7 separate regions of the Homo sapiens genome follow, and regions 2, 3, 4, 5, 6 and 7 are each reported to be linked to region 1. The links are microRNA targets in miRTarBase. Many come from high-throughput screens and were not tested one by one. Region 1 holds a microRNA gene; each other region holds the end of a gene's coding sequence.
Evidence for each region. Region 1 holds the annotated microRNA hsa-miR-890 (UACUUGGAAAGGCAUCAGUUG, at 2,898-2,918, opposite strand). A microRNA usually pairs through its seed, bases 2 to 8, with sites in the 3' UTR of a target mRNA and lowers its output. Matches are read on the target gene's strand: a 7mer-m8 pairs with bases 2 to 8, a 7mer-A1 pairs with bases 2 to 7 and ends in A, and an 8mer does both.

Region 2: the mRNA of LIF is a reported target of hsa-miR-890. Seed matches in the 3' UTR shown: 7mer-m8 at 1,520-1,526.
Region 3: miRTarBase lists WDR12 as a target of hsa-miR-890. Seed matches in the 3' UTR shown: 7mer-A1 at 900-906, 7mer-A1 at 1,787-1,793 and 8mer at 3,783-3,790.
Region 4: the mRNA of RAB36 is a reported target of hsa-miR-890. Seed matches in the 3' UTR shown: 7mer-A1 at 2,180-2,186 and 7mer-m8 at 3,835-3,841.
Region 5: miRTarBase lists B3GALNT1 as a target of hsa-miR-890. Seed matches in the 3' UTR shown: 7mer-m8 at 1,286-1,292.
Region 6: miRTarBase lists SMAD9 as a target of hsa-miR-890. Seed matches in the 3' UTR shown: 7mer-A1 at 2,840-2,846.
Region 7: miRTarBase lists ANKRD40 as a target of hsa-miR-890. Seed matches in the 3' UTR shown: 7mer-A1 at 1,599-1,605.

What each region holds. Positions count from the first base shown.
Region 1 is chrX:145,991,424-145,995,490 of GRCh38, forward strand. It overlaps MIR890 (microRNA 890), which reads right to left and starts at 2,928; the gene lies at 2,852-2,928. It overlaps MIR892C (microRNA 892c), which reads right to left and starts at 1,403; the gene lies at 1,327-1,403. It overlaps MIR888 (microRNA 888), which reads right to left and starts at 3,437; the gene lies at 3,361-3,437.
Region 2 is chr22:30,240,136-30,244,202 of GRCh38, forward strand. It overlaps LIF (LIF interleukin 6 family cytokine), which reads right to left. Exons shown (of 3, transcript NM_002309.5): 3 at 318-3,926. The coding sequence ends at 3,516. It overlaps LIF-AS1 (LIF antisense RNA 1), which reads left to right. Exons shown (of 3, transcript NR_149070.1): 3 at 1-403. Among named protein-coding and RNA genes, the nearest start is that of LIF-AS1, 3.0 kb to the left of the region's middle. RefSeq lists an enhancer at 1,501-2,169.
Region 3 is chr2:202,877,275-202,881,341 of GRCh38, reverse strand. It overlaps WDR12 (WD repeat domain 12), which reads left to right. Exons shown (of 13, transcript NM_018256.4): 13 at 405-4,067. The coding sequence ends at 482. Among named protein-coding and RNA genes, the nearest start is that of ICA1L, 7.5 kb to the right of the region's middle.
Region 4 is chr22:23,160,856-23,164,922 of GRCh38, forward strand. RAB36 (RAB36, member RAS oncogene family) reads left to right here. Exons shown (of 11, transcript NM_004914.5): 10 at 24-143; 11 at 645-4,067. The coding sequence ends at 709. It also overlaps a transcript of RSPH14 not described here. Among named protein-coding and RNA genes, the nearest start is that of RAB36, 17 kb to the left of the region's middle.
Region 5 is chr3:161,081,977-161,086,043 of GRCh38, reverse strand. It overlaps B3GALNT1 (beta-1,3-N-acetylgalactosaminyltransferase 1 (Globoside blood group)), which reads left to right. Exons shown (of 5, transcript NM_003781.4): 5 at 1-2,161. The coding sequence ends at 285. Among named protein-coding and RNA genes, the nearest start is that of B3GALNT1, 21 kb to the left of the region's middle.
Region 6 is chr13:36,845,142-36,849,208 of GRCh38, reverse strand. It overlaps SMAD9 (SMAD family member 9), which reads left to right. Exons shown (of 7, transcript NM_001127217.3): 7 at 390-4,067. The coding sequence ends at 533. Among named protein-coding and RNA genes, the nearest start is that of RFXAP, 28 kb to the right of the region's middle.
Region 7 is chr17:50,692,420-50,696,486 of GRCh38, forward strand. ANKRD40 (ankyrin repeat domain 40) reads right to left here. Exons shown (of 5, transcript NM_052855.4): 5 at 779-3,724. The coding sequence ends at 3,578. Among named protein-coding and RNA genes, the nearest start is that of ANKRD40, 13 kb to the right of the region's middle.

The sequences.
Region 1 (4,067 bases):
CTAAGTTACTGGCACTCTATTAGTCAATTGTCATGCTGCTAATAAAGACATACCAAAGACTGGGTAATTTCTATTGAAAAAAGAGGTTTAATTGACTCACAGTTCAGCATGGCTGGGGAAACCTCAGGAAACTTGCAATTACGGTAGAAGGGGAAGCAAACACGTCCTTCTTTACATGGCGGCAGGAATGAGAAGTGTTGAGCAAAGCGGGTGAAAGCCCCTTATAAAACCATCAGATCTTGTGAGAACTCACTATCATGAGATCAGCAGCATGGGAGTAACCGCCCCCATGATTCAATTACCTCCCACTGGGTCCCTCCCATGACACATGGGGATTATGGGAACTATGATTCAAGGTGAGATTTGGGTGGGGACACAGCCAAACCATATCAGACACCTTTCTGGGAATAGCCCTGAACACAGCATGGTCGAAAGGGGAAGTGCTGCCCCATCTTGCATTTTCATACCCTGCAGCTTTCATCACTCCTCTGAGCACGGTATGATGCCTGAATCCTGAACTTATTTATTCATCAGTTCAAAATAATGCCCAGCCCACAAGCCCCCAACTTGCATGTCTCCCTCAGTGCCCTCTCACCTGCTCTATGTTTACCTGGATGATTGCCCAGACCAGGAGAAAACAAGCTTGTTCCCGTTTTCTATTCTTCAACTAGGAAGTATCTTCATCTCTTCTATCACTTTCTTCTTTAACATGATGGAGTCTACATCATTAGGAATGCACCAGTAGAATTATCTTGAGGATGCCTGAGGTCCATGTGGCCAAATAGGATCTCCTGGCATCAGGGAAGGCAGCTCAAGGCCCTTGGAACTCCACATCAGGGGTCTACAGGCAACTATATGCTTGTACTTGGTAAGCCTTAGTCCACTCAGAGAGGAACTAGTTACATATAATCTAAGTGACTGGCACCTTTCTGGAACATATTATGGACGAATGGGGAGGGGCTACTCCATCGTGCAATGTGAATCCCCATCCTAGAGAATGTCCAGCCCACTGCCCTCCATCATGTATGTTTCCCTCAGCAAGAGCACTCTCACTTGGCTTCATGTTTACCCAGATGGTTGCCAGGACCACGAGAGAACAAGCTTGTTTTTCTGTTCTTCTATTAGGAAGTATCTTCACGTCTTCTATCCTTCTCTTCTCTATCATATAGGTATTCTCATTATTAGGAATGAACCACTGAAATCATCTAGAGGATGTCTGAGGTTCAGGTGGCCAGCTAGGATCTCCTGGCATCATTGAAGACAACTTAGGGCTCCAGCAACTCCAACTCATCGCCTGTCTGAAGACCACCACACACTTGTACTTGGTAAGCCCTACTCCACTCAGAAAGGAAACAGTGACATGTAATCTAAGTGACTGGCACCTTTCTGAATAGGGCACTGCCCACAGCACGACTGATAGTGGAGGTGCTGCCCCATCACCCACCATCACGCACTGCAGGTTTCATCACTCCCCTCAACACAGCAGGCTGCCTGAGCCCTGAACACATTTATTAAGTCCTAGAGAAGTTCCAGCCCACTGCCCTCCAACTTGGCATGCCTGCCTCAATGAAGACCTTCTCACTTGATTTATGTTTCCCTGGATGATGGCCAAGACGAGAAGAAAAAAAATCTTGTTCCCGTTCTCTCTTCTTCTTTTAGGAAGTATCTTTATCTCTTCTATTATTACCTTATCTAACCTGTAGGTGCTCACATTGTTAGAAATGGATCATTAAAATCATCTTGAGGATCCCTGAGTTCCAGGTGGCTTCCAAATCTCTCCTGGGATCAATGAAGGCAGTTGAAGGTGCTTGCAGGTCTGTCTCCTCACCAATCTGAACGCCATCACAAAATTGTACCTGGAGAATCTTGCTCTACCCAGAAAGGAGCTGGAAACATCTAATCTAAGTGACTGACCCCTTTTGGAGTAGGGCACTGCCCACAACATGGCTAATTGTGGGGGTGCTGTCCCATCTTGCATGTTCTCCCCCTGTAGCTTCCATCACTCCTGAGCACAGCATGATGCCTGAACCCTGAATTTATTTATTCAACAGTCCTGGATCATGTCTAACCCACTGCCCTCCAATGTACATGCCTCCCTAAATGAGGAACCCCTCACCTGCTCTATGTTTACCTGGGTGATCGCCAAGACCAGGAGAAAGCAAGATTGTTCTCATTCTATTTTTCTAGTAGGAATTATCTTCATCTTGTCTTTCTCATCTATAACCTGCATGTGTTCATGTTGTTAGGGACAGACGATTTAGAATATCTCGACGATGCCTGAGGTCCACATGGCCAACTAAGGTCTCCTGGTATCAGGAAAGGTACCTCAAGGCTCTTGAAACTCCACCCTATCATGGGTCCAAAGGCCACTACAAACTTATACTTGTTGAGCCTTACACTACCAAGGAAGAAACCAGTGATGTATAATCTAGGAAACTGGCACATTTCTAAGTAGGACACTGCACACAGCATGTCTGATAGCGGAGGTGCTGGCCCATCTTGCAAGGTCAACCCCCGTCCAGGAGAATGTCCAGTCTGCTGCCCTCCATGACGCATGTCTCACTCAATGAGACATGCTCACTGCTCCATATTTGCCCAGATGGTTGCCAGGACCATGAGAGAACAAGCTCGTTTTCTGTTCTTCTATTAGGAAGTATCTTCATTTCTTCTATCTTTCTATTCTCTGAAAAATAGGTATTTCCATTGTTAGAAATGCATCATTGAAATCACCTTGAGAACACCTAAGGTTCAGGTGGCCAGCTAGGATCTCCCGGCCTTACTGAAGACAACTAAAGCCTCCAGCAACTCCACTGCATCACCTGTCCGAAGGTCACCATGAACTTGTACTTGGTAAGACTTACTCTACTCAGAAAGGGAATAGTTACATGTAATCTAAGCAACTGATGCCTTTCCAAGTAGGGCACTTCCCACAGCATGTCTGATTGTAGAGGTGCTGCCCCATCATCCACCATCGTGCACTGCAGCTTTCATCACCCCACTCAACACAGCAGGATGCCTGAACCCTGAACTTAATCTTAATTCCTAGAGAATTTCCAGCCCACTGCCCTCCAACTTGGCATGCCTGCCTCAGTGACGACCTTCTTATCTGATTTATGTTCACCTGGATGATGGCCAAGACAAGAAAAGATTGTTCCTGTTTTCTCCTTTTAGGAAGTAACTATCTTTTCTGTCATTGCCTTCTCTAATTTGTAGGTGCTCACGTTGTTAGAAATGATCATCTTGACGATGCCTGAATTCCAGGTGGTTTCCAAGGTTCTCCTGGGATCAATGAAGGCAGCTCAAGTTGCTTGCAGGTCTACCCCCTCACCAGTCTGAGGACCACCACAAAAGTGTACTTGGTGAGCCTTCCTTCACCCAAAGAGGTGTCAGTCACATGTAATCTAAGTGACTGACAGCTTTTTGAGTAGAGCACTGCCCACAACATGGCTAATTGTGGAGGTGCTGTCGCATCTTGCGTGTTCTCCACCTGTAGCTTCCATCACTCCTCTGAGCACAGCATGATGTCTGAACCCTGAACTTATTTATTCATCAGTCCTGGATCATGTCTAGCCCACTGCCCTCCAAGGTATATGCCTCCCTAAGTGAGGAATCTCTCACCTACTCTATGTTTATCTGGATGATTGCCAGGACCAGAAGAGAGCAAGATTGTTCCCATTTTCTATTTTTCTAGTAGGAATTATCTTCATCTTGCCTTTCTGATCTATAACCTGTAGGTGCTCATGTTGTTAGGGACAAGCCACTTAACTTATCTTGAGGATGCCTGAGGTCCACATGGCCAACTAAGATCTGCTGGTCTCAGGGAAGGTACCTGAAGGCTCTTGCAACTCTACACTATCATGGGTCCAAAGGCCACTACAAACTTATACTTGGTGTGCCTTACTCTACCTGGAAAGGAACTAGTGACATATAATCTGGGCGACTGACACATTTCTGGGCAGGGCACTGCACACAGCATGGCTGATTGTGGAGGTACTGCCCTATCTTGCACAGTTATACCCTACAGCTTTCACCACTCCCCTCAACACAGCATGGCGCCTGAACCCCGA
Region 2 (4,067 bases), not on the chromosome of region 1:
CGAATTCCTGGGCTCAAATGATCCACCTGCCTCAGCCTCCCAAAGTGCTAGGATTACAGGAGTGACCCACCGTGCCCAGCACCCCCTTTACCTCTGAGCAATCCATCTCTCTCCTTGGGGGCACCCCATGATCTAGACACCACCCACCTTGTTCTGCCTTGGCCAAAATACCACCTAACTGCCCCCACCTATGCCAGGTGCCCCTCACCCACCCTCCTCCACCCTTCGCTGAGTCCCACTTGGCTGGTGCCCAGGACAGGGACAGTCCCAGCCCTTCCAGCCCATCTCCCCACATCAGTACACTCCGGAGAGCCAGCCAAGAGTAGATTCTTTATTCATTTCTCTTTTTTTTCTTAAAAAAAAAAGTATTCATTTGGTATAAAAAATAAATATTTTAAATATGACATTGAATAAATAAAAATAATCTGTCAGTATGAAACATCCCCACAGGGTACATTCATCAAAGAGGAATTTGTCACCCAAGGCCATGTGCTTTTCAGTGGAAAGGAAGGAGGGAAACCTCTAAGGCCGCACGGTGGGCCCACGGAGCTAGCACGTGGGCGGGACTGAAGGCTGGATGCCGGGATTGAGGTGGGGAACTAGAGATGACTCTAAGGCAGGAACATCTGTACCATCTGCAGGGAAATGCTACCTCCCCGGGTGCCAGAGCTCCAACCCCACACACTATGTCTACTCTGGAGAGCCGGCAAGGCAGAGCTGGACTGGCTGGGTCAGGGTGGAAGTGCCCCAAGTCAGGGACAAGGAGGACGATGGGGACGATGGGGAGGAGAGACAAGTAAACTAGCAGTGCTTTTTAAAAAAATGTTTAAATAATAAATAAGGGCCCGGAGACATCTCTCTTGGTAAACTCTCTCTTCCTCCGGCCAGGCCCAGGTGTGGTCCACACCAGCAGATAAAAAGGGAAGAGAAACCCAGCTCCCGGCCTGGCAGAGCTGTTTCACGCAAAGGCTCTGTGATTCAGTGATGCTGTGCAGGGTGGACGCCAAGCTGCCGGACGGGATCTGGAGGGAGCACTGAGGATGGGTCCCATGGGGCCAAGTCCAGGCTGGGTGGGAGAGCGACTCAGAGCCAGGGCCGCAAGGTGGGCCTGGCACAGAGCTCCCAAGTCCACAGGGAGATGAGGTGATGGGCGAGTCAGCCGGGCCCCCCGGGTGGAATCAGCAACTCTGGTTTCCAGACAAGTTTGTCTTTCTCGAAGCCCATCCTGGGGGAATGCAGCCAGCCCCAAGCTAAGCCGGATGAAGCAGGAAGGAGAAGGCAGTCCCTGCATCCTGGACAAGGGTGAGTGTGGCCCACATCTCAACAGCCACATCCTCGTCTTGCTGTTGGGATGGACAGATGGACAACTCCGGGCCGCACCCTCCACCCCAACCCCAGGCCTCAGGACCTGCCTGCACACTGCCCACGCGCCATCCAGGTAAAGTGCTTAGAGAGCGACAGGGAAAGGTGCAAAGTGAGTGAAAAGTACCATAATTAGTACCATCATCTTGTCGGAGGAACTTGGAGGCCGGCAGCCCGCTCAGGGTTTGAGAAGAAGCCAGAACACTGCTCTGAGCAGCTGCCCCAACTCTGCTGCCTCCTTCCCTCCCCTGCTCTCAGACTGGAGGGCGTTTCTCCACTCGCCTGGCCCCAGCACAAAGGAAGAGATCGGGTTCCCTGCCTGGGAGCCCAGACATGGGTGGGAGTGGGATGGGGGTGGAGCAGGAGGGCCCACAGCTTCCTGGTCTGAGTCCCAGGCATCTGCAGCCTCCCTCTCCTCCTCTTGGGAGCAATGGGCAGCTGATCCCCCCAGTCTACCCCACCTTCCTGGGGTCTGGCCCAGCCAGGCCCCCCGCACCGTCTATGGGTGTCCGGGCCACAGGAGGAGCTTCCCTGCTGTGTCGGAGCATGCTGGGTGCAGGGGCAGGGTTGTTCCAGGGCGCTATTTCAGAGGCAGCATGGGGACACAGAAACAAGGACAGGGTGGGCCACAAGGACTGTCTTGCCCACTGCTCCAGGGGGCACAATATCTGCCAGGAACAGTGCGCCTCACAACACAATGCTGGGGCGCCCAAGAACAGTGTGAACCAGCCCCCTGGAATCAAGACAGAAAGGCACCCGGCCTCTCCACAAATTGGCCCAGCCCCTGCAGCCTGGACCCTGACACCCTAAAGCAAGTCACAGTAGGGGATGGGGGGGGGTGGAGCAAGGCCCCCCACTCCCACTCAGGCCTCCCCATTCTCTCAGATCCGACCCTTCTCTGAGCTTCACCCGTAAGGCTTATTCCACTTGTAACATTGTCGACTTCCAGACCAGGCCCTGCTAAGCCCTGGCCCTGGCGCTTGTGTCGGGAGCCATCATCATATTTTGTTGAGTAGGGACCAGGGAAAGGGGAATTAACTTGGCCACTGAAAGCACCAATAAGTTAATATAAATAGGATATCATAATAAATAGAAATCATGCCAGGTCAGACGCACAGCACGCTTGGAGCTCAGGGTTCCCTGAGACCCTGACCCTAAGTTCTGCTGTTCCCTTGCCCTGGGGACCAGAGACGGCCTCCAGTCCCCCTCAAGTACCTCTGTGTGACCTCACAAGGCCTCCCAGGGCCTCAGATGTGAGCTGCTACTCTGAGCTACCCCAGCCCCTTCTTACAGACCTTTACCCAGAGGAAGAGCCTGGGTCCCTCAGAACCTCTGCACCTGACTTAGCAACCTGCCCCTGCCCTACCCACCTCCACAAACCCCTGCTGCAGGTCCAGCCATCAGACCCTGGCCATCCCAGGCTGCAGGGAAGATCACGGGGAAGAGAACGAAGAACCTACCAAAGCTTTCCAGGCCTCTCCTCCTCCCAGTGTCTTCCTTCCCAGGCCTGAAGGTGGCTTCTCTGCCTCCCCAAGAGCCTGAATGCCAAGTGACCTCCTTCTGGAAACTTCTGCCAGATTGTTCCTATGCCCAAGTTCTCTGATCATCCTCAAAAGAAGACAGCCTTCCATCCCAGAGGCCCCTCTCTATCTTCCACTCATCAAACTTCTAGGGGACAAGGAGTCCTTTGGGATCCTAGCCCCTCTGGCCCACCTAAGTCCCAACCTAAGGGGCAGCAAAGGCACAGATGGTGATAATTTGCTGGGGGCTGGTCCACTCCCCTGGGCCCTGCTGTCTCACCCTGTGGTCAGGGCTCTTGTAGATGACTTGTGTAGTTTGTTCACTGCACAAAGTGAGCAAGGGGCCAAAGGGACAAGTAGAGGCAGAAGTCCAGCCCACGCTCCCCAGTCCACAATCTCCCAGAGGAAGGGGCACCTTCTTCTAGCTCCCTCCCTATGGAAGTTTCCACTCTGCTCAGCTTCATCACAGCCCAGCCCAGAGTGGAGTGGACTGGCCAGGCACCCTCGGGGTCTGCCAGCAGCCCCCATTTGGGTTTAGCGATGCCCTGGGCCCCAGCCACCCTTGGACAGGCCCCCACATCTGGACCCAACTCCTGAGATCCCTCGGTTCACAGCACACTTCAAGACCTCCTGCTAGAAGGCCTGGGCCAACACGGCGATGATCTGCTTATACTTCCCCAGGAGTTGACAGCCCAGCTTCTTCTTCTGGAAGACATCCTTACCCGAGGTGTCAGGGCCGTAGGTCACGTCCACATGGCCCACGTGGTACTTGCTGCACAGGCGGCACAGCACGTTGCTAAGGAGGCCTCGCAGGATGTCGGCGGTGGCGTTGAGCTTGCTGTGGAGGCTGAGGGCACTGGGGTTGAGGATCTTCTGGTCCCGGGTGATGTTGCCCAGGGAGGTGCCAAGGTACACGACTATGCGGTACAGCTCCACCAGCTTGGCCTTCTCCGTGCCGTTGGCGTGGAAGGGCGGGAAGTCCGTCACGTTGGGGCCACATAGCTTGTCCAGGTTGTTGGGGAACGGCTCCCCCTGGGCTGTGTACTGAGGGGCAGAAGGGAGGTGACGTGGGAGTCAGGGGTCAGTGTCCCAGCCCTGCCGCCAACCCTTTGGGCAAGCTCTTGCGTCTGTTTCCCCATCTAGCGCATGAGGACCCAACTCCTTGCCCTGTAAGCATCTGGAATT
Region 3 (4,067 bases), not on the chromosome of region 1:
GCTCTTACTGCCTAAGAATTCTTTCCAAATATAAGGCCTAGGGCTACTTGAATAATTTGTAATATACAATTAATGTGTTGTCCTTTAAAAATTTTTAATTTTCTTTAATAGGTAAAACTGTATCCCTTTCAAACTTATGTATCTTGGCAGATGCTTTATAGAAAGTGCAACAGCATATTATGTCTCAACCAAATTTAAATGATAGCTTTTAATGTTTTAATAAACTGTATCATAGTATAGTAGTGAAACAACGTTGGTCCCTTTACTCACTCTCAATGCAAGTTAACTGCTCACCCATAATTCCTTTTGTAATGAAAATCATTAGTATTTAATTAGGTTTAGCTATGATGTGAAATAATTATATTTATTTATGTTTTCTTGTCTTTTTCTCTCCTTTTACACAGCTACTTCTGAGTGGAGGAGCAGACAATAAATTGTATTCCTACAGATATTCACCTACCACTTCCCATGTTGGGGCATGAAAGTGAACAATAATTTGACTATAGAGATTATTTCTGTAAATGAAATTGGTAGAGAACCATGAAATTACATAGATGCAGATGCAGAAAGCAGCCTTTTGAAGTTTATATAATGTTTTCACCCTTCATAACAGCTAACGTATCACTTTTTCTTATTTTGTATTTATAATAAGATAGGTTGTGTTTATAAAATACAAACTGTGGCATACATTCTCTATACAAACTTGAAATTAAACTGAGTTTTACATTTCTCTTTAAAGGTATTGGTTTGAATTCAGATTTGCTTTTTTATTTTTATTTGTTTTTTTTTTTTTTGAGATGGAGTCTTGCTCTGTTGCCTAGGCTGGAGTGCAGTGGCGCAATCTCAACTCACTGCAACCTCCGCTTCCTAGGTTCAATCGATTCTCCTGTCTCAACCTCCCAAGTAGCTGGGATTACAGGCACACATCACGATGTCCTGCTAATTTTTGTATTTTTAGTAGAGACGGGGTTTTGCCATGTTGGCCAGGCTGGTCTTGAACTCCTGACCTCAGGTGATCTGCCCACCTCAGCCTCCCAAAGTGAGCCACTGTGCCTGGCCGAATTAAGATTTGTTTTTGAAATGCTGTAAAAGGTTATATTGGAAATCCAGTAATTGATTGTTGAGATTTTTATTTCTGTTAGAGACTTAGATTTTTTTAAGTTAGCTATTTTAAAAAAGCATTCAAAAAGATTAATGAAAATTGTAATAGAGAAAAAGTTAGAAATTCAGTTCCTTTTGGCAGAATAAATGTTCAAGAAAATTAGGCTGTGAGGGTACTCAGAACATTAAAAAAAATGTAGGCTGGGCATGGTGGCTCACACCTGTAATCCCAGCACATTGGGAGGCCGAGGCAGGTGGATCACCTGAGGTCAGGAGTTTGAGACCACCCTGGCCAACATGTCAAAACCCTGTCTCTGCTAAAACTACAAAAATTAGCTGGGCATGGTGGCGACCGCCTGTAATCCCAACTACTTGGGAGGCTAAGGCAGGAGAATTGCTTGAACCCGGGAGGCAGGGGTTGTAGTGAGCTGAGATTGTGCCACTGCACTCCAGCCTGGGTGACAGTGCAAGACTCTGTCTCAACAACAACGATAACAAAATATTGATTCGGCAGGGCACGGTGGCTCATGCTTGTAATCCCAGCATTTTGGGTGGCCAAGGCAGGCGGCTCACCTGAGGTCAGGGGTTCGAGACCAGCCTGACCAACATGGTGAAACTTTGTCTCTACTAAAAAAAAAAAAATCCAAAACAAATTAGCCGGGTGTGGTGGCACACTCCTGTGGTCCCAAGTACTTGGGAGGCTGAGGCAGGAGAATTGGTTGAACCCAGGAGGTGGAGGTTGCAGTGAGCTGAGATCATACCACTGTGCTCCAGCCTGGGCAGCAGAGCCAGACTCTATCTCAAAATAAAGACAAGTAGATTGCCAATTTTTGAAGAATTCATCAAGATATTTTAAGGAAGGCACTTTATATTAAATATATGTCAGATCCTTTAGAAATTGCATACAGTTGGTTGGGCACGGTGGCTCACGCCTGTAATCCCAGCACTTTGGGAGGCTGAGGCGGGCGGATTGCCTGAGCTCAGGAGTTCGAAACCAGCCTGGGCAACACAGTGAAACCTCGTCTCTAATAAAATACAAAAAATTAGCTGGGCGTGGCAGCATGTGCCTGTAGTCCCAGCTACTCCGGAGGCTGAGGCAGGCAAATTGCTTGAACCCGAGAGGCAGAGGTTGCAGTGAGCTGAGATTGTGCCACTGCATTTCAGCCTGGGCAACAGAGCAAGACTCTGTCTCAAAAAAAAATAAAAAATTGCATTGCATACAGTTTTCACTGTAACCCTAATCTTTCCTCATGTGTAGATTAGAATAAATTTTTTAGACAAAACCTTTCATCAGTATTAAACATTCTACAGATTTTATGATATCATTAGCATTTATCTTTATGCATGTGTTATATAAAAATATTTAAAGTAAATGTATTTTTTAAATGTTATTTCCATTATTAATGGATTGATACTCCTTAAGTAGAGCATTCACAACCTTTTAGTAATATTTGGGAAATATGTTTGGTCTCATTATTAGATGGTATTACATCTCAAATGATGTTCCTGTTGCAGAAGTCTGCGAAACAATATCTAAACTTGGCTGCAGTTGAGAGCTAAACAGTGTATTGAACCAGTTAGGAGTTTAGTTCTCTGTAGAAAACCAGAGGCAGTCCAGGGCTGATGTAGGTTTTGTTCCACATTCTTTAGGATCCTAGGCTCCCTCCATCCCTGGTATGTGGTCCTCATTTTCATATAGACCAAGAGCTAGAGCTCCAGTTACCATTTCTTAAAGTATATTTTAATGCCAAATAGTGAATAAAGGTGGCCAGAAAATTCATGCACAGAATCCTTCTTTTTCTCATTTTGTGCTGATTGGTATAAATTTTATTGTATTTGTAGTCTCTGGAAATCTTCTAACTTTGAGAGGACAAAGATGAATTCCTAGTCCTGTTTTGGATGGTCTTCAAATGATCCTTAAGGGCAGTTATTTAAAATGTCTTTCTTAACTCACCCAACCTAGGCTGACCGAATGTAGTCTGTATAAACTAGATGGTTAAAGATAAAGAAGCCTATATATCAGATGCATAGACAAAGAATAAAATGGCATCCAGAACTGGTCCCCACCTATTCCCAATCCTGGTTCCACAGCAGAATACATTCATAGTTCAGGCATTCTTCCTTGAGATAGATATAATGTAAGTGACCAAGTCTCTTGGACAAGTATTGTCTCTGATCAATCCCTGCCAAACTCCTTTCCTTGGTTAACTCAAGTGGTTAGATCTTACTCCCTGAACAGAAGGAATATGAGAGGTCAATACATGCCTAGACTATTCAGTCCTCTGATATTGCTCCACACCCTTTCCCTCAAAAGCCATGAGACCTTTCAATGGTCCCAGTTCCTCTACCAGAACACCAGAGATGCCTGCTTTACATGGACTTATATATTCCCAAGAATCACTTGGATAAATGAGTGGTGCTGCTTTCCCGTGGTTGGGGAAAAGCTAGGAACCTGACAATGCAGTGCTCAGAACCTGCTGACCGGTACTAGTTATGCTGTCTTGCCATAGTAGTGCAGTTCTTTAAAATGTTGATACTTGCTCTCTTATCAAAGGTTGGTTTTTTTGTTTTTTTGTCAAGACAGGGTCTCACTATGTCACCCATACTGGAGTACAATGGTGTAATCTTGGCTTACTGCAACCTCCACCTTCTGGGCTCAAGCTGGCCTCTCACCTCAGCCTTCCAAGTAGCTGGGACCACACCCAGTCAATTTTTTATTTTTTATTTTTTAATTTATTTTTATTATTACTTTTTTTGTAGAGAGAGGGTTTCGCCATGTAGCCCATGCTGGTCTTGAACTCCTGGGCTCAAGCTGTCTGCCCACCTGGACCTCCCAAAGTGCTGAGATTACAGGCATGAGCCACCGCACCCAGCCCAAATAAAGTTTTAAGAAATTACTTGGCCAGGCATAGTGGGGCCTTTGTAGAAAAACATAGCTTTTCTATGAGAAGATGATCAATATTTTC
Region 4 (4,067 bases), not on the chromosome of region 1:
CCGGCTGTCTTGTGGGCCCACAGGCGAGAACGTGAAGGCATTCTTCAGCCGCGTAGCCGCCCTGGCATTCGAGCAGTCGGTGCTGCAGGACCTGGAGAGGCAGAGCAGTGCCCGGCTCCAGGTCGGCAATGGAGACCTAATCCGTGAGTATAGGTGTGACTGGGTTGGGCTGGGGAGTAGGCTGGAGGCCTAAAATCCACATGCGCCATCCTCGTCACCTGAGGCCTTGCCATTTCCTGAACTTGTGGCCCTCTCCTGTCCTTTGACCCTCCTCTCAGGGTGTCACTGCAGCCTCAGGCCTGTAGCCCCTCTGATTCCACCTGCCAGGTCAGACACCCTCCCTAGCCCTCCCTGTTCTCCTGACACATGGACCTCATGGGCATCCATGAGGTCCTCATAGCCCAGGCTGGGCGTCCCAGGCTCTGCAGATGTGTCCTGGCCCCGGCTCTCCCAGTCTGCACCTTTGCCCTCTCTGTTCCAGTGCCTGGAAGGCCCTCTCTTGGCTTGTGTCAGGCCATTCAGGCCTTGAACAGCAGGCCCAGAAGCTTCAGCTCACAGCTCTGACTGTCAGGGCCGGCATCCCCTGCCCAGTGTCAGCTACAGGATTCCTGGTTGATGCTAAATTACTTCTCCCCTCCTTACAGAAATGGAAGGGAGTCCGCCCGAGACCCAGGAGAGCAAGAGGCCCTCCAGCCTGGGCTGCTGCTAACTGGGGCCTGCGTGGAAGGCCTCCGCTCCCTGCACACACACGGACAGGAATTTCCGTGACTGTGGTGTGGAGACTGGAGCCCAAGCTCTGCAGCGTGTCGCCCTCAAGCTGTAGGCCCATGTTCCAGTCCCTCCACCCACCCACCGGGCTCAGCTCCAGGGCACAGTCACTTGTCCGTTGCAGGTTGGGCACTAGAAAAGGCCCCCACTGGCTGCCTGGGAGCCCCACACCACCGGGCCAGTGCAGGCACTGTGGTGATCCCATAAAAGGCCAGTCCATTTGCAGGGTCATCAGACAGTCACCTTTGGCCTCAAGAGGCCTCAGAACTGCAAACTCCTGCGTCGGTCTATACTACTCGGCCATGGCCCACATCAGCAGTCAACCCTGCACTCTTTCCCAGCGATCTTGGATGTGTCCCCAGGATCCGTCACAGTGTTCCAGGCAACCTGGACTTGTCAAAGTCAGCACCTGAAGGAGAGGCCACCTGCCATTCCCCCTGGGAGTTTTCTGTTGTCAGCAGGACTTATGGTTCTGGGTCTCAGAGCTTCAGGCCTCACTGTCCTTCTGCCACGGATGCTCAAGGTTCCTGGGCAGACCAGCACCTCTGGAGGACAATGGACAAAATGTCTCTTAGACCTGTTCTGGCTGAAGGGCTATCTCTGGCACCTCTGAGATCCCTAGGTCCTGCCCTCCTGGTCCGTGGGCCAGGATGTGCAGAACAACCACTCAGGCCTTTCTGGCCCACCTGGACAGTGCATTTACCTGTGTGCTGCGGGAGGCAGACTGCACAGCTGTCCTAGGGTAACTCACTCTGCAGCCCTTGAACATGGCACTGCCCTCCTCTGGCACTCATGCTGGGCCTGTGCCCACTGCTGCCTCTCCATCCCTCTCTCATTGGCCTATACATCTCTTAGGACCTTTGTAATGGTGTCCATGCACCTTTAGAGGACTTCAGAGGCCCTGCCAAGTCTAGCATGTTCCTGTCTCCAACACCGCCTCCTGCACATGCAGAGCAGACAGAAATACCCCACACATTCCCCAGCCTCTCTGCCCAGTATGCTCATCCACAGGGTTTTCTCACTGCTATGAACCAGCCCCACAGCCCCAGGCCCCTGTCACCTGGCTATGCCCACTCATCCCACCCGTCTCGTGCTGTTGCTTCCCGTAGATGGCGAGCACCTTGCAGGCAGCCTTCTGATCAGTACTGCTCTCCTAGGGCCTGGCACACTGCAGCTGCCCTGTAAATGTTCAGCTCAGCGATTGCCAAATACCAGTTAGGGAAGAACACTGGCATCTTTTTCTATTCATTCCCCCTTCAACATATTTTTTGTAGTTTTTTATATAAATGACTTTTTTTTTTTTTTGAGATGGAGTTTCACCCTTGTTGCCCAGGCTGGAGTGCAATGGCGTAATCTCGGCTCAGTGCAACCTCTGCCTCCCAGGTTGAAGCGATTCTCCTGCCTCAGCCTCCCAAGTAGCTGGGATTACAGGCATGCACCACCATGCCTGGCTAATTTTGTATTTTTAGTAGAGATGGGGTTTCTCCATGTTGGTCAGGCTGCTCTCGGACTCCTGATCTCAGGTGACCTGCCCACCTCGGCCTCCCGAAGTGCTGGGATTACAAGGGTGAGCCACCATGCCCGGCCATAAATGATTTTATTCATTTTTATGTTTTCTTTTGGGCGGCGGGATGGAGTCTCTGTCACCCAGGCTGGCGTGCAATGGCACGATCTTGGCTCACTGCAAGCTTCCCCTTCCGGGTTCATGCCATTCTCCTGCCTCAGCCTCCCGAGTAGCTGGGACTACAGGCACGTGTGACCATGCCGGGCTAATTTTTTATATTTTTAGTAGAGAGAGGTTTCACCGTGTTAGCCAGGATGGTCTCGATGATCTGACCTCGTGATCTGCCCGCCTCGGCCTCCCAAAGTGCTGGGATTACAGGCCTGAGCCACCGCGTCCGGCCTCCATAAATGACTTTTAAAGGGGTTGTATGTTTAGTGTGAACAAAGACAGTACAAAGCATATAAAATACAAGGTGAAAGCCCCCCCCCCGCCACATTAGCTGCGCCCCTGAAGTGTCTCCAGCAGAAGAGATGGATGAATGGAAGGACACACAGATGGACAGAGAGCAGGAAAGACTGTTAGCTCTGCTAACAGTCAGGACTATTCCTTCTGGACTCTGTGCCTTTGCCTGCACAGCTAGTGTTGATGGCTTGTTTGTTGTTTTCACCAGAGTGAGCTCCTTCTGGACATACTGCCTGGCAGCCTGCCTTCCTAGGGAGCTGGCGCCAAGGCCTCTCCCTGATGGCACACAAGGAGCCTCCTTCCTGTAGCAGCGCCCAGTTTTCATGTGGATGGATTGTAGTTCATTTGACCCTCCCCATCCGCGGGCCATCCGGCTTGTGTCCAGCTTTTAGCTCTTGCCAATGGTGCTGCAGTGGCCATTCTTGTAGTTATAGCTTTGCGTACTCAGGAAGGCCCTTCTCCCGACTGCGGCCCCCAGCCTGGTCCACTAAATGCAGCCTGTGGTCGGGCAGACAGCATTGGGGTCCATTAGGAAGACCAGGTTTGCTGGGCATAAGCTTCACAGGACGGGAGAACCTGCCCATGGTGGACTGTCGTTCTCCACAGCTCCCTTCCCTTGCCCCTTCGGGCCTCCAGGATATGTTTGCGGGGGTGGGTGTGGTGTCCAGCTGTTACCAGCTTCTGAGCTAGAGCTGTACTGCCTCACGTACACCCCCACCTCTGTAAATGGTCCTTGATTAAATCGTCCTCATATTACCTCCTGCAATGTGCCAGCTGATTCCCACACACCCTGACTGACATAGTTGTGGCCTCTCGAACTTTGATATTTGGCCTGGGAGGACAGAAGAGTAAGGTCGCCACGGAAACGCAAGGGGCTCAGTTGTCCCCCCACCCCAAGTTGATGCAGCATCTTCTCGGTCAGAATTGCTTCAGGGTGGTTTGCGCACCCTCACTTTGATGATTTAATGAAGACATTTCCTTCTTTCCCAGCATCGGGCAGTAAGTTTCCTGGGCAGAGGCACTTTCTGTTGGTCTGGTCTTGTGGGCCCAGGCAAGCAGCCCCCTGCAGCCAAGGTGCGGCAATGACCACAGTGACCGCGTCCAAGTGCTGCCGAAACGCCTTTTTCCTCTTCCCTGTTTCCCTGGACCCTTTCCTGCTCTCTGTCCATCTGTGTGTCCTTCCGTTCACCTGTCTCTTCTGCTGGAGACACGTACCTGAAGCAGGTCCTCTCCTGTCACTTCCTGGCTCCCCAGGGCTAGGTCCCAGGGTGCTCTCGCTCTGGCTTTCGAGGCTCCTCACCACCCAGCCCACCCCACCCCCACAGGCCCCTGT
Region 5 (4,067 bases), not on the chromosome of region 1:
TGCAGTGGGTTGGGTTATATAATGTCCAGAGATTTGGTGCCAAGGATCTATGAAATGATGGGTCACGTAAAACCCATCAAGTTTGAAGATGTTTATGTCGGGATCTGTTTGAATTTATTAAAAGTGAACATTCATATTCCAGAAGACACAAATCTTTTCTTTCTATATAGAATCCATTTGGATGTCTGTCAACTGAGACGTGTGATTGCAGCCCATGGCTTTTCTTCCAAGGAGATCATCACTTTTTGGCAGGTCATGCTAAGGAACACCACATGCCATTATTAACTTCACATTCTACAAAAAGCCTAGAAGGACAGGATACTTTGTGGAAAGTGTTAAATAAAGTAGGTACTGTGGAAAATTCATGGGGAGGTCAGTGTGCTGGCTTACACTGAACTGAAACTCATGAAAAACCCAGACTGGAGACTGGAGGGTTACACTTGTGATTTATTAGTCAGGCCCTTCAAAGATGATATGTGGAGGAATTAAATATAAAGGAATTGGAGGTTTTTGCTAAAGAAATTAATAGGACCAAACAATTTGGACATGTCATTCTGTAGACTAGAATTTCTTAAAAGGGTGTTACTGAGTTATAAGCTCACTAGGCTGTAAAAACAAAACAATGTAGAGTTTTATTTATTGAACAATGTAGTCACTTGAAGGTTTTGTGTATATCTTATGTGGATTACCAATTTAAAAATATATGTAGTTCTGTGTCAAAAAACTTCTTCACTGAAGTTATACTGAACAAAATTTTACCTGTTTTTGGTCATTTATAAAGTACTTCAAGATGTTGCAGTATTTCACAGTTATTATTATTTAAAATTACTTCAACTTTGTGTTTTTAAATGTTTTGACGATTTCAATACAAGATAAAAAGGATAGTGAATCATTCTTTACATGCAAACATTTTCCAGTTACTTAACTGATCAGTTTATTATTGATACATCACTCCATTAATGTAAAGTCATAGGTCATTATTGCATATCAGTAATCTCTTGGACTTTGTTAAATATTTTACTGTGGTAATATAGAGAAGAATTAAAGCAAGAAAATCTGAAGTATTGTCTTGTTTTTAAAAAATACAGTTCCTAGTGTTTTTAGAAGTCACTTAATTTGTCTCATTTTTCCACCTGGAAATTAGGAATAATGTAGAATGCAAGGCAGTAATTTCCTTTTGGAAAGGACTCTGAAGGCAGAAAAGAAGGGAGAGAACCTCATGGGCAGAATATTATAAAAAGAGTGTCATATTCCAGCATTTGAATTGGAAAGAGAAGAGTGAAGATCCAAGTTGCATTATTAATCTGCCCTGTGTTTTTTCCTTTTAACAATCAGTTTGAGCTGCTGCTGTTATGAGTTTCTCATCAAGATGAAAGCCCTAATATGTAAAGTCAAATCCGATTTAAATTTTGTGCTTTTATAGAAAGAAATTTCTTCATAGACGTGGTGATATATCATTTGTTGGACCTGCTAATAGTAGGTCAAAGGGGAGCACTCCTTGCCCCCTGTTCCTGGGTTTATGCAGTTTTCTTTTTAGAGTTTATATAGGGCAAGTGGTTCTTTTTCTCTGAATTACAGGATGGAAAAAGGTCATATCCTTTGTCAGGAAATATAAACTTGAAAGTATGTAGTCAGCTCTTGTAATACTCATATTTATGATTGTCCTATATGAAAAACAACTTCAGTTAAAACTATAATGTGTGATTCTGTATAACAAGGTGATGTCTGTTTCCCAGGGCTCAGACCTAATCCAGTTATAATAAAATCAATTAAATGAAATATTCTATAGAATCGATCTATGCCCTTGTTAATCTCCATCCATATAGGAGTCACGTTCTTTAAGACAGATGGTGGTAGTTATTTTTGTGGCATGGTTAGATTTGACTGGTTTTGCAGAAGATTACAGTTATGTACTGCATAATGACATATACAATAGTGGTCCCATAAAATTATAATGGAGCAGAAAATCTATTGCCTCATGATGTTTTAGCCGTTTTAATGTCATAGCCTAGTGCATTACTCACGTGTCTGTGGAGATGCTGGTGTAAACAAACCTACTACACTGCCAGTTGTATAAAAGTACAGCACATTCAGTTATGTACAGTATGTAATACTGATAATGACAATAAATGACACCGGTTTGTGTATTTACTTTTTATAATTAGAGTGTTCTATTCCTACTTATTAAAAAAATGTTTAATAGAGCCTTGGGCAGGTCCTTCAGGAGGTATTCCAGAAGAAAGCATTGTTATCATAGGAGATGACAGCTCCATTCATGCTATTTCTCCTGAAGACCTTCCAGTGAGACAAGATGTGGTGATAGAAGACAGTGATACTGATGATCCTGACCCTGTGGGCCTAGGCTAATGTGTGTGTTTGTGTCTTAAGTTTTTAACAAAGTTTAAAAAGTAGAAAAATAAAGTTTAAAATAGGAAAAAACTTACAGAATAAGGATATAAAGATATTTTTGTGCAGTTTTACAAGATGTTTGTGTTTTAAATTTAAGCTAAGTGTCAAAAAACTTTGACAAAAGAGTCAAAGTTTGAAAGTTTGTAAAGTTAAGTTACGGTGAGTTAAGGTTAATTACTGAAGAAAGAAAATTGTTAAATGAATTTAGTGTGGCCTACTTTAAATGTGCCATGTTTGTAAAGTCTACAGTAGTGCACAGTAATGTTTGAGGCCTTCACATTCACCCACCACTCACTTAGTGACTCACACAGAGCAACTTCCACCCCTGCAAGCTCTATTAATGGTAAGTGCCCTCCCTATACAGGTGTACTATTTTTTATCTTTTATACTGTTTGGTTTTTTTTACTGTGCTTTTTCTATTTTAGATACACCAGTACCATTGTGTGACAGTTTCCAACAGTAAGTATTCAGTACAGTAACATTCTGTACAGGTTTATAGCCTAGAAGCGATAGGCTCTACCATGTAGCCTAGGTGTATAGTAGGCTATGCCATCTACGTTTGTGTAAGTACACTCTAATGTTTGCACAACGACAAAATCACCTATTTCTCAGAATGTATCTCCATTGCTAAGTGCCACATTTCTGTATATCGATGTTTGGGAAGCTAACTCAAAACATTTCTAGAGAGAACTTTTAACATAAAAAATAATTCCCTTTCACTTTTAGAAAAGACCAAAAAACAAAAAAAAAACAAACAAGTTTCAGAAGATTGTTTCTTTTGAACTGAAGATTGGTGCCTAAAAGAACCTACAAAGTTAAATGATTAGGAAAACATTAAGAGATTGGGTCATTATATTTTTTGTTTTCAACTATATTAAGCTTTCAGGAAGTAAATATTAGCTGTGTTATTAAAATCATGACCTGGTGTTTAACCAAATCAGCAGCTTTAAAAATTTTAACTCATATAACAACGTTTAATACTGGAGCTTATCCTTGGGCTGATTTGGTCCCATCTGCCTTAGCCCTGCCATCCCCATAGTTTCACACACCCTCTGCCTCACTTGCTTTCCTTGTCTGCAGGTGTTGAGTTTGTGACTTTTAGCACATTAGTTAGCTTTGCTAAGGGTCACAAATGCTACAGTAACGCCCAAATCTCAGACTTGATGACAACCAATGTTTTCACTCAGTTGCATGGCAGTGGTTGGCTGCAACCCTGCTCTATGTCTTTTTCATTCCAGGATCCAGGCTGATGGGCAGCCCGTTTGGAACATGCTGTTCTTATAGAAGGAAATTAAAAAGCTGGTGGAAGCACAGTGGCATATATTAATACATCCACTGGCTGAGATGAATCCCTTGCCAAGCCCAGTGTCACTGAGGTGGGGAAGTATATTTCTCTTGCAGGAAGTAACTGCAAGTGATGTTGCAGCATGCAGGAATGTATTGTTCCACAGAATGGGGAATGAAAAACTGAGTGCAGTCGTACTGTAAGCTGCCACACTCAGTGTCTGAAAGGGAGAGGGAGCCTTCAGACAATGCCAGACAACTCTGCAACAGACCCCAATTTAGGCCCTGTAAACCAGAAATGTAAGAAATAATTTTTGCCTAATGCTGCCAACTTTGGGGATGCTTTCTTACGATAATTAAAACATTTCTCACCA
Region 6 (4,067 bases), not on the chromosome of region 1:
CAGGTCCAGTCACTGGTCTGCAGTAACCATTTTGTGCAAGACACTGTCCTGGGCATGAAGGGGTGAACAAAAGGTCAAGTTTCTTCCTTTGTGGAAGGGAAAATGATTTTTCAGTGCTTCCCGTGTGACTGGAGTGCCAGAACCTCTCTAGATCCGAGTATTCAGTTGTGAACCCTGAGGGAATGCACTGATTTGGATTCATCTGAAGGCATCTGGTTGGTGTGAGAGTTGACCTGTGTTTACAGGAAGGTAGAGGCCATGTTCTCTCCCTCTCAGGTCTCAGGAGCTACGCTGGGGTGTGGGCTCTGTGCCCCGCTGAGCTCTGCCTGGGGCTCTGGAGGCTGAGTGTAAGTGTGGCACCATCACTCAGCTCCTTTCTTGTTTTTCAGGGTTGGGGTGCTGAGTATCATCGCCAGGATGTCACCAGCACCCCCTGCTGGATTGAGATTCATCTTCATGGGCCACTGCAGTGGCTGGACAAAGTTCTGACTCAGATGGGCTCTCCACATAACCCCATTTCTTCAGTGTCTTAACAGTCATGTCTTAAGCTGCATTTCCATAGGATAGAGGCTATTGCAGGGAGTGGCTTGTATCATTTCAGATTTGCAACTGAAGTTTCTAAAAACATGTGTAAATACATAGAATGTATACTGTTCTTATTTTTTTTAATCACCGTTTGTTTTGTGCTTTCTAGTTAACCTGATGCCAGTACAGTGCAATTGGAAAAGCAGGACTTTGGTGCCTGTGCTATAAGCAGCAGATTTTGTGGGAGGAAACACTTGAGAGGCGATATTGTCAACAGTATTTGAAGGGTGTTAGCAGAATAAAAGACAGCTTTAGTCAGCCGTGTCATTATAAAGCATGTTGTGTGGCCTCACAGAAACATTGAAACTGTTTATACAGCAAAAGTCAGGTATTAGCAGCACTAAAGCAAATATCACTCAGATGAAACAAAGCAGTGAAACCCCTACAGTTTAAATGATGTCACTTTTAGTGCTGTTGGCAAGAAAAAAAAAACAACAAACTTGTACAATGAATTAATGAGATAGGCCATAGAAACTTTATTTCTAAGGTTGACATACCTATAGCTGGGCTCCTGTGCTCATATTCAGTGGTACATTTTAAACAAACTGTGATCGGAAAAGAAAAAAAACTGTGAAGCCAAAAGTCATGTTCCCTCAGTCTACCACTGTAAAAACAGAGTCTAATATGGGAAAATAAATATGAAAATAGCATGAAATGCTGTTTCCCAGATTGCAAGATAAGACCAGAACTTGGTCCAAGAGCCAGCCACCCAGGGAGACTCCTGCTTTCCACAGAGGAGACCAGGTTCCTGTCGTGCTGGTTGTTCGTGTCAGGCAGTCCTGCAAACTTTGAGTCTGCGCAGCGTGCCAGAATAGCTTGTGTTTCAGTCCTGTGTCAAGAAGCAGGTGAAACCAAAGGTTGGAGAAAAGCATCACACGTCGACTTACACTTTCTCATTTCCCACGTTCCAGTCTCCTGGGAAGGGCACTCTTTCGCCACGTTTTCCTGCCTCTTGGCAAATATTAACTCTTTGCAGATCACTAAAGCAACAGTAAAGACTTTGAGAAAATCTAGACACATTATTGGATCAATGAGTTATTTAACCTAGTGTCTAGTGATTATCTAACCTGGAAATAAATTCCCAAGGAAAGTGATAATAATTTCATAATCATCTGCAATTTCTGGGGAACAGTGGTACTGAATAATAAGACATCTTTTAAAAATATACACAATATTAAAAACCTGTTCTTATTTTACTTTAGATGAGGGAGGAAAATCCCCCAAATTTCTAGGTACTTTCATATATATACTTGCCATGCACTAAACACTGCATTGCTTGGAAAAATATTTCACACCCTCTTTAAAAATGTACAATTTAAGATGGCAGTTATGCTTGTAACAGACAGCACTTCAGTAATCCAAGAAGTTTCTTCATTTATACATTTTATCTCAACTCTTTCTAGCATTAGTGCACATGGTAGTTTTTCTAATTAAATTGTATTCAAGGTAGAAATGATCATGTGAGAAAGATATATGATTGAGCTACTACTGTCACCTCTTACAGTTACTAGTGTTAGCTAATAGAAACTTTCATATATACACATAGAAAAGAATTATTACATTTTACATTGAAAAATGTAATATATGGCCCATGTAGTGTATAGAAAAATCTGTAGTTTATTGGTTCATCAACTATGTATTGTGCACCTACCTATGGGTGTCAGGTACAATGTTAGGTACTGTAGAATCAAATGTAAATAAGAGACAGTCCCAGCCCTCAGGGAGCCGAGAACCTAATAGTGAATCTGTTTGTACAGACATCTTCATGTTTCAGAACTTTTAAAACAAAACAAAATAATGTAATCTATCATCTTTTGCTTGAAAGAATGTGATTGATTTCTTATCTCTGTTTTGAAATTATTTCCTTACTCTTCTGCAAAGTCAGGTAATGGATTCCTTGTATAAATGCTACTTTTCTTCCATGTCTCAAAGTTGTTTTTTTTCCTCCCCTTTCTTCCCTGTTTTCCAATAATTCTCCATGTCCCCTTTTCTTAGAAAAGGCATTAATATGGTGAATCTTGTATGGGAACCATTCCATGGGAGAACTTCAACACAGTTTTTGCTCCAGAGATCAAACATAGCTTTCGTGATCTCTCTACCAGCTATCTAACTTATCCTCTGGTAATCTTTTTTTTTTTTTTTTTTTTTTTGAGATGGAGTCTCGCTGTGTCACCAGGCCAGAGTGCAGTGGCGTGATCTTGGCTCACTGCAACCTCTGCCTCCCGGGTTCGAGTGATTCTCCTGCCTCAGCCTCCCAAGTAGTTGGGACTACAGGCTACCACGCCCAGCTAATTTTTATATTTTTAGTAGAGACGGGGTTTCACCATGGTAGCCAGAATGGTCTCTATCTCTTGACCTTGTGATCCGCCCGCCTCAGCCTCCCAAAGTGCTGGGATTACAGGCGTGAGCCACTGCGCCCGGCTTCCTCTGGTAATCTTACACCTTTACAGAATTAATCTAAACTGGTGGCTCATAAATGACATTAAAAACAAAAAAAAAATCTGGATGCAGTGGCTCATTCCTATAGTCCCAGCACTTTGGGAGGCCAAGGCGGGAGGATCATCTGAGCCCAGGAGTTTGGGGCTGTAGTGAACTATGATCATACAACTTCATTCTAGCCTGGGTGACAAAGTGACACCCTGTCTCTAAACAAAAATCAAGAAACAAAAAACTTGTATTTCCCTGCAGCTTTGGGAAGCCAGAACACAATATTGCAGTGAATCTGAATTTTCTGTGACAAATAAATTATTAAATTGGCACATATGATCATCACCAGTCATGTCTCATCAAAAGCCTTTATTATGATGCTTGTACATTTTGAAGAATTTAGAATTAATGAGAAGTTAACCCTTTAGTCATTGTAACACAATCATATTTTAATCAGCTTTTTCTTTTGCTACCAAGAGTTTCAAAAAATAAATGCAGTATTTGATTTCAGGCTGCTAAATGGGCTCATTTAGCATTCATTCCTTGATGTAGACATTAAAAAAAAAACTGAATAGCATTCTTTCCAGGATAACTAATAAAGCAGACATGCTAAGCCTATAAATACATCAGCACTGCAGCACACGTTTAAGGTTGCCACGGACAAGGATCACACAATAGAGAACACTGTAGTAACATTTCGGTCTGCTCACAAGACCCAGAACATTGATCAGTTTTTGTTGTTGGTTTATTATTTTTCTGTTAAAAAATTGTGAAAAGTTTGTTTTAGCTAGATGATATTTTAATAGCTGCGAGTGCTTTGGAACTATAAAGATGTCACTACTTAACACATATACCTTATGTTTTGTTTTGTTTTGTTTTACACTCAGTATAAATCAGGAGAAGTTAGCCAACCATCTAGCATTTAGAATCCTCTTTTTTATTGTCTTCTAAGGATATGGATGTTCCCATAACAGCAACAAAACAGCAACAAAAACATTTCATAAATATCACTTGATAGACTGTAAGCACCTGCTTAACTTTGTGTCCCAAATATT
Region 7 (4,067 bases), not on the chromosome of region 1:
TTTCTCCCCAACCCTAAATGGCTTGCAGTAGATATGGATGGAGGTGGATCCTTTGACTGGTTTTTTCTATATGCTCTGGGTCAGCCTGTGCTGCAGGACCATTTGTTAAAGGTTAATCACATTTTTTTGGCAGGCTGTTTCTGCCCAGGATGTTTATGAGTATATGGAAGATGACTTCCATCCTTGTGATAAAGCAAGTATGAAAGCACAAATGCCCAAATTATCCTGCCTCTCCTTGGTGCTAAGAAAAGGTCTCTGCTATGCTCTCTGATTTATTAGGCCAATTTGGCTTGACGTCTGCTTTGTGAGGTGCTAGCTGGCCTGAACCAACAGAAAAGCAGACTCATTCAGCATCAGTATCAGCTAAAGATCTGGAAGTGTAAGGCTGTGTTTCCTCTCCTGTCTTGGGACTTTGCTTCTGAGCTCATTGAGGCCCTGACAGGTGCTGACAACTCAAAGGAGAGGCTCAGTTGGGTAAAGTAAATAGGATAATCAAAAAATGTGGTTAATAGGGGATGACCTCCATCTAACTGGCTCAGCTACTCCAGGGAAATGAAGCCGACTGCGTGAACTGGAAGGAAAGACGCCGCACAAAATATCCGTCCCCAGGTGCTACTGACAGGGTATGAACGGGATGTGGAGGAGGCTCAGGTGGAGAGAGGGCCCTTCTAATTTTCCTGCAGAGCTTCTGGTCTCTGGGACTGTCCAACAATTTGAACCCCCTATGATTAGAACTGTAGTGCTGTTTAGGAAGCCAAAATGAAGGCATATAGGATCGGTCAGTTAATATTTAATTTTAATAATACTTGTTATGTTTGAACAGTCAGCAATGCACAAAGAAAAAATCTTCAGTGAATGTTTACACACAGTGTGAACACATGCTTTAAATATGCAGTGGAGGAGGAGGGGTGAATTCACAGTTAACAAAGCTAAAAAAAAAATCCTTGTTATAAATTACACAAAGCATATAAAAATATTTCTCTGAATGCATAGATTAAGACTTTAAACTCACCTACCAGCAACTGTGCAGTCTTATTCCACTGCGATACGCAGTAGTCAGTTGACCACAGAGGATTTTATAAAGGAGAAGAGAGACCAGCATAGGACAGAGATACATCAAACCCACCTCTCACCAGAGACACCAGTCCCTTGCTTGCCTCTGTCGCTAAGCCCAGAACATGCCCTGCAGCTGCTCCTCTGGAGGCCATCTCCCAGCCAGGGGCTCCACTGCTCCACTTTAATTAATCTGGGTGGCTGAAAGTGTTTTAACCCAAGTAACTTAAGACATGAATTAATAGTGAATTTATTTCCTCTAGGACAGAACCAGACTTAACTTTATTAGTAAACTGTAACTGTTTTAGAAGTAAAGAAAAAAAAGGTTACTACATCTAGTTAAATTCACTTCCGATTGGTTGAAACACAAGGGAGGGGCTGGGCCGGGTGGCTCACACCTGTAATCGGAGCACTTTGGGAGGCCAAGGCAGGTGGATCACTTGAGGCCAGGAGTTCGAGACCAGCCTGGCCAACATGGTGAAACCTTGTCTCTACTAAAATACAGAAATTAGCTGGGCATGGTGGCACATGCTTGTAATCCCAGCTACTTGGGAGGCTGAGGCAGGAGAATCGTTTGAACCCGGGAGGCAGAGGTTTCAGTGAGCTGAGATTATGCCACTGCACTTCAGCCTGGGCAACAAAGCAAGACTCCGTCTCAAAAAAAAAAAGAAAAGAAACACCAGGGAGGTTTCTTCTTTAAAGCACTTGAGAGAAAGAGGGTAATAAGTAACCTTCACTCTGCTATGCAAACACTGTACAAGGGTGAGTAAGTCACCAGCAGTAATTGGTGGGATACAATTAAGTCACTAAACAGAGTGAGTCCATGAAGTTAGCCTTGAAAAACATCTCAACCTCATTTCAGCATTTAGGCAGCAGCAGGAGGCCATTATCTTAGCACAACATTCTCTTCTGTTGACATCTTCTGCACGTTCTCACTCAACTGTAGTGTTCTAATAAAATTAAGTTAACACAGTTAGGAAGTTGAGTTTCTTTGGAAACTATAGGCACTATGGGGAAAAAGCTTCTTAAGACAGCAGGGATGCTCTTCGACAGCTGGCTTCAAACCCCTGCTCTCCTGTTTGTCTAAGTGTGCTAGTTCTTATTTCTGAAGTTAAGCTGTTTGTTTCAACAAAACAGTGGCTGCTCTTTTAACATTAATGACACTGAAGGAAAGGAAAAGAATCCTTGAATGCATTCTTCTAAAAAATTCCTATGCCATACTCAAGAGCTTAATCAGGTGTTTTGTTTCTATTTTTCAGAACAAAGTCTGGTAGACTCATAACTGACTTTGTGAAGTGAATTGGTGGTAGTAGTAGGGGGATCACTAAGATCAAACAATTTGTTTACAAAAGCAACAGATTTCAGAATTGTGTAAAAATCCTAATAATTTCAAAATAACCTTTATTTTTGATACAAAAATAAAGATGCTAACTCCTTTAGCTCAGTTTCCCACAATAACCTTTAAAATAGCAACAGATTCAGTCTCAAAAATTGCTTTTCATTTGTAGTGGAAAATGAAAGTGGAGAACATGGAACAGCAATATTTGTGCTCTTCTCATAGGATGCAGTTACACACACATATGACTGGAATCACTTCAGAGTAAAAAAAAAGTGGGCTGGGTGCAGTGGCTCACACCTGTAATCCCAGCACTTTGGGAGGCCAAGGACAGGAGCATCACTTAAGGCCAGAAGTTTGAGACCAGCCTGGGCCACATAGTGAGACCCTGTCTCTATGGGCGGGGTGGGGGTGGGGGGCATTGTAAAAAAGCAGTTGTTCTTTTAGAAGGCATCAGAGAGCCCTCTAGTGACCACGAAGGGGAGTTAATGCAGAGATGACTCGAGACAGAGAAGCAGTCATGAGTGTTTACAAAGGAAAAAGTGAGGGAGGGAAAGCTCTTTTGGTTAACAGCATATTTACAATTAGTTAACTGTATTCTTAAATACTTTTAACCTGAGTAACATTTATAAATATGTTATAGGAAACCTCACAGTCACAAGTCACACTAGAATCCATCTGTCCAGTATCTGTGCTTTCCCCACACCAGAATCCATCTGTCCAGTATCTGTGCTTTCCCGAGTCTTCCTCTCTCATAAGTTCCCAATGTCAGCAGAGTTGTGAGCATGCAACACCAAGAAAAACGCATCCCAGCCCTTCAGGTGCACTGTCAACAGGAGTGGCTAGAAATAGGCTCCGCTCTCTCTCAGCTGCTGCTTAGACAACTCTCTTACATTCTGGACATAAAACACACTGGATATAGAACCTTCAGCTTCTGCCTCTCCAGACCACTTCTCAGCTGTTCAAAGCTTCAAGCAATAGGTTTACTGTGCACCAAGAGGCTTGGAAGAGTGGCACCACTGCTTGGGGGTCAGGGGCTTCCTACCTTGGCAGAATGATGTTAGTATATACTATGCAGTGGCACCAGAGGCCCTCCCGGGCATCTGAGGCATTTAGATCAATGGCTTGTCCTTGGCCCAGAGGTGATGCACACTGTCATAATACTCAGTGATAAAAGTCCCTGCTGCATTAGTAAGTCAGTTTTGAAGCTCTCCTGTTATAGCAAGGCCTTTCAGTCAGTGTGGATGCAGCATTTCTGAACAGAAAATTATTTTCACTTATCATCAGAACCAGTTCCAGCTCCTGGAAATCTTGGAGTCGAGCAACATCCTTGTCCTAAAACAAAAATATGTTAAACAGATTAACAGGAGCCACTTGTCTCCATATGTTTGGTGCACTCTATTGATACCAGTATCTTGTCTTATTTCAAAACCTAGAAGAAAAAAAAAAATCCCTGTGGCAGGCTAAGTCAGTGATAGTGCAACTAAGGCCCCAGGATGATTGGGTTGCAAAGTGGAAGTCCTTAAAAACAGCTCAGCAGCTGCGACAGCATGAGCACACACTGCGAAGGGAGAGGCAATGCACAGATCAGTTTCCCAGGTGCCCTGAGAAGCCAGAAGCCTGATGTCAAAAACCCAGAGATGTATGAAGGACCACACATGCATCTATGTGATTTGCT